Regions from separate parts of the Homo sapiens genome. Here region 1 is linked to region 2. The links come from fine-mapping of genetic effects on gene expression. A gene starts in region 2. The other region holds a variant in brackets. All regions are shown on one strand. Distances are between the middles of the regions.

Region 1 (4,378 bases), 31 kb before region 2:
CCTGTAATCCCAGCACTTTGGGAAGCCAAGGCGGGTGGATCACAAGGTCAAGAGATCGAGACCATCCTGGTCAACATGGTGAAACCCCGTGTCTATTAAAAATACAAAAACTAGCTGGGTGTGGTGGCATGCACCTGTAGTACCAGCTACTCGGGAGGCTGAGGCAGCATAATTGCTTGAACGTGGGAGGTGGAGGTTGCATGAGCCAAGATCGTGCCACTGCACTCCAGCCTGGGTGAAAGAGCAAGACTCTGTCTCAAAAAAAAAAAATTGTTTAAATTAAAGATACAGGCTGGGTGCAGTGGCTCACGCCTGTAATTCCAGCACTTTGGGAGGCCGAGGCAGGTGGATCACATGAGGGCAGGAGTTTGAGAGCAGCCTGGGAAACATGGTGAAACCCCATCTCTACTAAAAGCACAAAAATTAGCCAGGCATGATGGCGCATGCCTGTAGTCCCAGCTACACAGGAGCCTGAGGCAGGAGAATCCCCTGAACCTGTGAGGTGGAGGTTGCAGTAAGCTGAGATCACCCCACTGCACTCCAGCCTGGGCGACAGAGCAAGACTCTGTCTCAAAAAAATACATAAATAAAGTTATGAAAAAGGCCAGCCGAGCACAGCGGCTCACGCCTGTAATCCTAACACTTTGGGAGGCCGAGGCGGGTTGATCACCTGAGGTCAGGAGTTCAAGACCAGCCTGACCAACATGGTAAAACCTCGTCTCTACTAAAAAATACAAAAATTAGCCAGGCGTGGTGGCACACACCTGTAATCCCAGCTACTCCGGAGGCTGCAGCAGGAGAGTTGCTTGAACCCGGAAGGTGGGAGTTGCAGTGAGCTGAGATTGTGCCATTGTATTCCAGCCTGGGAGACAGAGCAAGACTCCGTCTCAAAAAAGAAAGAAAAAGAAAAAAAGGCCTATACAGAGTACCTGACAAAACTGGCCTGGAATGTTGAACTCTCAGACCTGTCTTAGTTCACCTCTTCAACTTTAAGAACTGAAGGCTGGATGCAGTGGCTCAAGCCTGTAATCCCGACACTGAGGACTGAGTTGAGGCAGGAGGACTGCTTGTGTCCAGGTGGTCCGGGCTGCAGTGAGCTCTGACTCCACCACTGCGCTCCCACCTGGGTGACAGGACACAAGACCCTCTCTTTAAAAAAAAAACTAAAAACTCACCATAGCCAAAAGGTGAAAACAACCCAAATGTCCATCAGAGGATGAACAGACAGAATGTGGTCCATCATTACCTTCTTAAAAAGAGAATTCTGACACATGCTCCAACAGGGGTGAACCTTGAAAACGTTAAGCTATGTAAAGAAGCCGGATATAAAAAGACACACGATTCTACTTCCATGAAATATCTAGAAAAGGCAAATCCCCATAGACAGAGTAAACGGAGGTTATAGAGGCTGGGGGAGGGATGTTTGGGGTGATAGAAAAGTTTTGAAAATAAGTAGCAGTGATGATTGCACAGTATTTTGAATGTCTTCTTTTATTTTTTATTTTTTTTGAGACGGAGTGTCACTGTCGCCAGGCTGGAGCGCAGTGGCGTGATCTCGGCTCACTGCAACCTCCGCCTCCCAGGTTCAACCGATTCTCCTGACTCAGCCTCCCAAGTAGCTGGGACTACAGGCGCCCGACCTCAGGTGATCCGCCCGCCTCAGCCTCCCAAAGTGCTGGGATTACAGGCGTGAGACACTGCGCCCGGCCTTGAATGTCTTTAATACCACTAAATTGTGGGCGGCAAGCCACCCAGGCACCGAGGCAAGAGACCGAGGACA[T/C]GAGCTGTTCCAGTAAAATAAAATATAAAACAAGAATAGTTATACCAGATATAGATCTTAGATAATGATTATATATGAATATCATTAATCATTAGTTGGTAGTAATTACTCTTTATCCCAATATTATAATAATCCTCGCTCTACAATCATAACCTAGGAAAAACCAGGCCATACAGAGATAGGAGCTGAGGGGACATAGTGAGGTGTGACCAGAAGACAAGAGTGCGAGCCTTCTGTTATGCCTGGACAGGGCCACCAGAGGGCTCCTTGGTCTAGCGGTGACGCCAGCATCTGGGAAGACGCCCGTTGCCAGGCGGACCATGGTCTAGCGGTAGCGAAAAATGTGAAGGAAAAACACCCGCTACTTAGCAGACCTGGAAAGGGAGTCTCCCTTTCCCCGGGGGAGTTTAGAGAAAACTCTGCTCCTCCACCTCTTGTGGAGGGCCTGACATCAGTCAGACCTGCCCGCAGTTATCCGGAGGCCTAACCGTCTCCCCGTGATGCTGTGCTTCAGTGGTCACGCTCCTTGTCCGCCTTCATGTTCCATCCTGTACACCTGGCTCTGCCTTCTAGATAGCAGTAGTCAATTAGTGAAAGTACTAAAAGTCTCTGGTATGCAGAAATAATAGCGTAAGCTGTCTTTCTCTCTCTCTCCTCTCCCTCTCTGCCTCGGCTGCCAAGCAGGGAAGGGCCCCCTGTCCAGTGGACACGTGACCCACGTGACCTTACCTATCATTGGAGATGACTCACACTCTTTACCCTGCCCCTTTTGCTTTGTATCCAATAAATAACAGTGCAGCCAAACATTCGGGGCCACTACCGGTCTCTGCACATTGGTGGTAGTGGTCCCCCGGGCCCAGCTGTCTTTTCTTTTATCTCTGTCTTGTGTCTTTATTTCTACACTCTCTCGTCGCCGCACACAGGGAGAAGCCCACTGACCCTGTGGGGCTGGTCCCTGCACTAAATTGCACACTTAAAGTGGCTAAAATCATGCATTTTATGTTACATAAATTTTATCACAATTTTTACAAAAGCAGTTAAAAGGCAGGAGACCCAGTGTGTGCCCAACAGACAATGCTGGAGTGTGTTTAAGAAACTCAAGCAAAGGAAATGCAAGTCAAGGGATTAATGGGCAAGTTCTCCTTCAATTATCAAGGCTACAGAGAAAAGTATCAAGTATTCAGAAGTCTAGGAAACACCACCGAGGGCCTCTCCTAAGCGTCTCTCAGGAGGCAAGCTCTATCCAAACAGGCGGTGGCTGGGAACAGCTGTCACCAGGATGGATGGGAGCACAACAAATAGTCAATTGCGAGCTGAGACTTAGGAAAAAACAGGTGGGGCAAGGACAGAAAAATAATATGTTAATGCTGTGTTCTGAGTAGGAAAAAATGCCATTAAGAATGGGAAGAGATGGCCAGGCGTGGTGGCTCATACCTGTAATCCCAGCACTTTGGGAGGCCGAGGCAGGCAGATCACAAAGTCAGGAGATCAAGACCATCCTGGCTAACACGGCGAAACCCTGTCTCTAATAAAAATACAAAAAATTGGCCAGGCAGGGTGGCTCACGCCTGTAATCCCAGCACTTTGGGAGGCCGAGGCGGGCGGATCACGAGGTCAGGAGATCAAGACCATCCTGGCTAACACGGTGAAACCCCGTCTCTACTAAAAATACAAAAAAAATTAGCCAGGTGTGGTGGTGGGCGCCTGTAGTCCCAGCTGCTCAGGAGGCTGAGGCAGGAGAATGGCGTGAACCCGGGAGGCGGAGCTTGCAGTGAGCCAAGATCCCACCACTGCACTCCAGCCTGGGTGACACAGTGAGACTCTGTCTCAAAAAAAAAAAAAAAAATTTGCCGGGCGTGGTGGTGGGCACCTGTAGTCCCAGCTACTCAGGAGGCTGAGGCAGGAGAATCGCTTGAACCCGGGAGGTGGAGGTTGCAGTGGGCCGAGATCGTGCCACTGCACTCCAGCCAGGGCAACAGAGCAAGACCCCATCTCAAAAAAAAAAAAAAAAAAAAGAAAAAAAGAAAATCACCATTTTGCCATTACCATAATTTATTCAAGCACCAATTGTCTCTGAATTGGGTAAAAGTCTGAAAAGGGAGTTATTGACACAGGTTCAAAGATTCTCACCACAGATTACTGATTAATCCCAAAGAGGAAAATAGTATCTCTTCAGTGAAGGGATTGGGGCAAACACCACCTTAACAAAGTGACCAAATTTCACAAAAATGGAACAATGTGGCATCATAGGCCCTTGATGTGAGGAACTAAGGAGGGCACAGCGCCACTTTCACAGGTTTCCTGGCAAAAATGCACGACCCCGGCCAACATGGTGAAACCTCGTCTCCAATAAAAATACAAAAATTAGCCAGGCGTGGTGGCAGGTGCCTGTATTCCCAGCTACTCGGGAGGCTGAGGCAGGAGAATGGCGGCGTGAACCCGGAAGGTGGAGGTTGCAGTGAGCCAAGATAGCGCCACTGCATTCCAGCCTGGGTGACAGAGCGAGACTCCATCTCAAAAAAAAAAAAAAAAAAAAGCATGACCCCATACCAAAGACTCGCCTCAGACTCAGGTGTGAACTGAAAGAGAATGAAAACG
Region 2 (4,378 bases):
ATCCTTACTTACCTCAAAGGAGTAGCTCTCCACCAGCGGGATGTCCTGCTCATCGATCAGCGTGTATTTGGTCTGGAAGTTAACCACATGTTTCAAATCATTACATTTGGGATCTGCGTGAGGTGCAGTAACCTTATAACCAGAACAGGCAGGAGCCTGTTGCATTTTCCTGTGAAGTGGAAAGTAACTACAGGCCTCTTCAGACCAAGACAGCTCAGCACATGGGGGCCTCATTCCACCGTTTGGGGTGGTGCAGTCTACGACAAAACACAGGCAGACAGGTTAAAAGCCAGCTGCCCACTTTAGTCTGCGCCAGAGGAGCTGGTATCAGGCTTCATCCTCGCAGGGCTAACCCCAACAGTGGCACTGAACATTCAACGCACCAATAAACCTAGGCAAAGACTGTTTCACTGAGCTGAGGGAGGGGCCGGGGCTGAGGCAGAAGAGCCAGAAGGTTTTGATTAGGGTGTGTTTATTAAGCTGAGCTACTCACTGATTACCCTTTTTAGCTTTTTGTCCATCTGAAATGTTCCAAAGAAAAGCTGTAAGGGATGACAATGCCATCATGGGTGGAGTTAGAAGGGGTCTCTGGTCTCCGACCTGACTGGAGAGCCCACCCTTCCCTGGTGGAAAAAAGCCTCCTCCCCAGCAGGCCCTGCCTATGCTCTTGCAGCAGGGGCAGGAAACAGGAACAGGTCCCAGAACGGGCCAGTCTCCCTCTTGGCAGTTTTTCTTCTGGGATCTGAACCTGTTTTACCTGACGCCGCCTGACACTGCCTCGGCTCCTCTCTCCCACCAAAAGCCGCAGCCGCTGGTGACGGGAACAGGGCTCCCATCCGGGTAAGGACCCTGGCTGGTGCAGCTGCACAGGTGGCTCCGAGAAACCGCCAAGCCTCAATGCCCACAGGTGCCATGGAATCCCCAGCCTCAAACGTGGAGCGTGGGGGCCAAGTAAGAAGAGAAGTCGAGGAAGGCCCTGAGTCTGCAGCATCAGGGCCCAGGCTTCTTCCTCTCTGCTCCGAGTCTGAGGCTCAGCCTAACGTGGCCAACCCCTGGCAGCGTTAAAACGAGCCTGAAGCCCTGCTGAGAACTGGGAGGCACAGAAGAGCCCACACCAGACCCGCCTCGGCGAGAGGTGTGGAAGTGGCGCTGCCTCGGAAAGGGCGCTGTGTTTAAACCGTGTGGCCGCACTGGCAGCCCGGACGCCGCGCTAGGCCCCGGATCGCCGACACCACTGGGAGGGCTCCGGGAGAACGCGGCTCGGGCTCGAGCCACGCATCTCCGCACCCGGCTCGGGACAGGGCCGTGGCCTCCACCTCCGGCAGGGCAGGGCCGAGGGTGGCCAGGTGCACCCCAGAGCCGAGGGGTGCGTGCCCGCCGGCCTGCGAGAGGAAGCTGCACCCGCGCGGGGCCAGCAGCCGGGCCCGCGCAGCGTCCCCCGCCCCGCTGGGGCCCATCCCGGGCTCCGCGCCCCCGCCCCGGCCGCCGCCCGCACAACCGCCCCCGGCCCCGCGCGGAGGCCTGGACGGGCGAGACGGGCCGGGTCGCGGGCTCCGCGCCGCTCACCTTCCCGGCCACCCGGCCGAGCCGCACGATACCCAATTTGAAGTCGGTCATGGCCGGGCCTGCGCTCTCGGCCGGCAGCGCCGCTCCCTCGGGAGGCGCCGAGCGGGGGCCGGGGCGAGGCCGCGGCGCGCCGGGACAGGACGGGACCGGAGCCGGGGTCGGGGTAGCAGCCAGGCGGGCTCCGGGCGGGACGAGGCTGGGCCGGGCTCGGGCCTCCGCCGCCGCCTCGCGCCCGCCGGACCTGCCACGCGCCGCCGCCGCCGCCGCCACCGCCACCGCGCGCACCACAGCGAGCGGAGCGGAGGGGCGGGGCGCAGCCCCGGACACACCCCCCGGCCCGCCGCCGCTCGGCCAATGGCTAGGCGCGCACGGCGCCGACCGGCGCGCGCCGCCCCGCAACAACCAATAGGAGGAGGGCGAGTGCGCCGGCGCTCTGGGGAGCGGGGCGAGCGCGGGGGAGGGGCGAGGCCGGGGGCGGTGCCTGCGCGCGCCGACGTCAGTTTCGCGGGAAGCTTTGTGCGGGCAGCGGCGCCGCGCCTAGAGGGGCAGTGCGGAGTGTGGCTGGGGACTCGCGCCGGGTCCGTGGAGCTCTGCGAGCTGGCTGCTTTTCGCCTCCCTTGCGGTAGCCTCCGTAAGCTGTTTCCCGCCGCCGTCCTGGCCCCGAGCGCGGAAGGAGGAGGTGGACGGAGCTCGTGCGGGGCCCTCTGGGCGGGCGGGGAGCGGGCGAGGCGGGCTAGGAAGAGGCCGTTGCCGCGGGACGCGGGTGTTTCTGGAGAGACAGCGGACGCCCGGCCCACGCGACCCGGAGGGCGCGGCCTCCCGCGCAGCCTTCTCCGAGCCGCCGGCTCTTCAGCCTCGGGGGCGGCTGACCTCCAGAGCAGCCTGGTCCAAGGCGTCTGGAAACGGAACTCCAGTGAGGCCCATTAGGCTCCGCGGGAAAGCCGAGACCCGCTCAGGGAGGGACTGGGTACGCCGTGGTGGGCAGCGTGGCTCCCCTGCAGCCTGGAGCGAACGGGGCTAGGTCCTGCGTCCTGCTCCGCCGGTGTCCAGTCGCCCGTGAGGAGGCCTCACCCTGCCTCAAGGGCGACTCCTGCACCTGAGGAGCTGCACAGGCTCCTTTCTGGCTTGCTGGGTTCCGTTTTCTTTTCTTGCTTTTTTTTTTTTTTTTTTTGAGTCAGAGTTTTGCTCTGTCACCCAGGCTAGAGTGCAGTGGCACGATCTCGGCTCACTGCAGCCTCTGCCTCTCGGGTTCAAGCGACTCTCCTGCCTCAGCCTCCCGAGTAGCTGGGACTACAGGCACGCGCCACCATGTCCGGCTAATTTTTGTATTTTTAGTAGAAGTGAGGTTTTTCCATATTGGCCAGGATGGTCTCGAACTCCCAACCTGAGGTGATCGGCCCACCTCGGCCTCCCAAAGTGCTGGGATTACAGGCATGAGCCACCGTGCCCCAGCCTGCAAAGGGTGTACATGAGTGAGCCCAGACGTTCCATCTCTGGGTCCCCTGGTACTTGCCAGTACCCCAGACACCCTAGAGGACTGAAGGGGCTGATGAGTCCTGGCCTGCCTGAGACACACATTGGGGTTCAGGCTGGGCCTTGCTCAAAACATGCCTGTCCGACCGCGCGCGGTGGCTCATGCCTGTAATCCTAGCACTTTGGGAGGCCGAGGCGGGCAGATCACGAGGTCAGGAGCTGGAGACCATCCTGGCTAACACGGTGAAACCCCACCTCTACTAAAAATACAAAAAAAAAAGCCGGGCGTGGTGGCGGGTGCCTGTAGTCCCAGCTACTTGGGAGGCTGAGGCAAGAGAATGGCTTGAACCCGGGAGGCAGAGCTTGCAGTGAGCCGAGATCGTGCCACTGCACTCCAGGTTGGGCGACAGAGCGAGACTCCGTCTCAAAAAAAAAAAAAAAAGTACCTGCCCTACCAATCTCAACCTCATGGAGTTGCAAGGGTGTGATGAGATTATGAGCAACTGCTTTGTGAAAAGAAGTGGAGCTTGGTGGGTGCTCCCTAGGGTAGTTGAAAAGCACTGGTGTCATAGTCCAGGTTCCCCCAGAGGTTGACTTGAAATGGATTCGAGTCCAAATTTTGTCCGGGCCTGGTGGCTCATACCTGTAATCCCAGCACTTTGGGAGGCCGAGGCAAGTGGATCACCTGAGGTCAGGAGTTCAAGACCAGCTTGGCCAACAGGGTGAAATCCCGTTTCTACTAAAAATACAAAAATTAGCGGATGTGGTGGCACACACTTGTATTCCCAGCTACTTGGGAGGCTGAGGCAGGAACATCGCGTGAACCCAGGAGGCAGAGGTTGCAGTGAGCCAAGATTGTGCCACCACACTCCAGTCTGGGCAACAGAGTGAAACTCCGTCAAAAAAAAAAAAAAGTCCAAATTGTTAGCTTGAGAGAAGACCCCAGGAGACACCAGCAGGAGAGTAGGGGTGTGAGGCAGGGAAGGGGGTGCTACCAGTCCAGTTACTGTAGCAGGCGCTTGTGTAGGAACCATCCTCAGAGTCCCTCCCCGAGGGCCAGGGGAGCCAAGGCATTCACCCTTCACCCTGCTGCAAGGGGACCCAGCATTCACCTCTCACCTTGCAGTCATTGGTTGGAGGCTGTTCCTGGCAAGGTGACTTCTTGGCTCCAAAGCCGAGAAAGACCTGCAGGTGTTGACACAGCGCAGTGCTGCGGGCAGTGCCCAGCTGGCTTGGGAACTCATACCTGGTCCACCACAAGCCGGCTGCTTTATCTACACATTCTACCCAAGTATGAATGTGGCACCCCTGCCTCTGTGTCCTGCGAGGGTGGAATTAT

What was found. PIP is the estimated chance that this variant, and not a neighbour inherited with it, causes the effect.
Region 1: its variant is the best candidate, but not a certain one, in a credible set for the expression of ZMYND19 in fibroblasts (GTEx, PIP 0.55).

What each region holds. Positions count from the first base shown.
Region 1 is chr9:137,557,247-137,561,624 of GRCh38, forward strand. All of the region lies in intron 8 of DPH7 (diphthamide biosynthesis 7), which reads right to left. Among named protein-coding and RNA genes, the nearest start is that of MRPL41, 7.6 kb to the left of the region's middle. The variant T/C (reference allele first, on the strand shown) is at 1,781.
Region 2 is chr9:137,588,647-137,593,024 of GRCh38, forward strand. ZMYND19 (zinc finger MYND-type containing 19) reads right to left here and starts at 1,866. Exons shown (of 6, transcript NM_138462.3): 1 at 1,567-1,866; 2 at 13-72. The coding sequence starts at 1,617. LOC124902318 (a long non-coding RNA gene) reads right to left here. Exons shown (of 3, transcript XR_007061885.1): 2 at 4,159-4,224; 3 at 2,393-2,462. RefSeq lists enhancers at 1-429, 952-1,001 and silencers at 1,272-1,321, 1,372-1,481, 1,762-2,151, 2,342-2,411.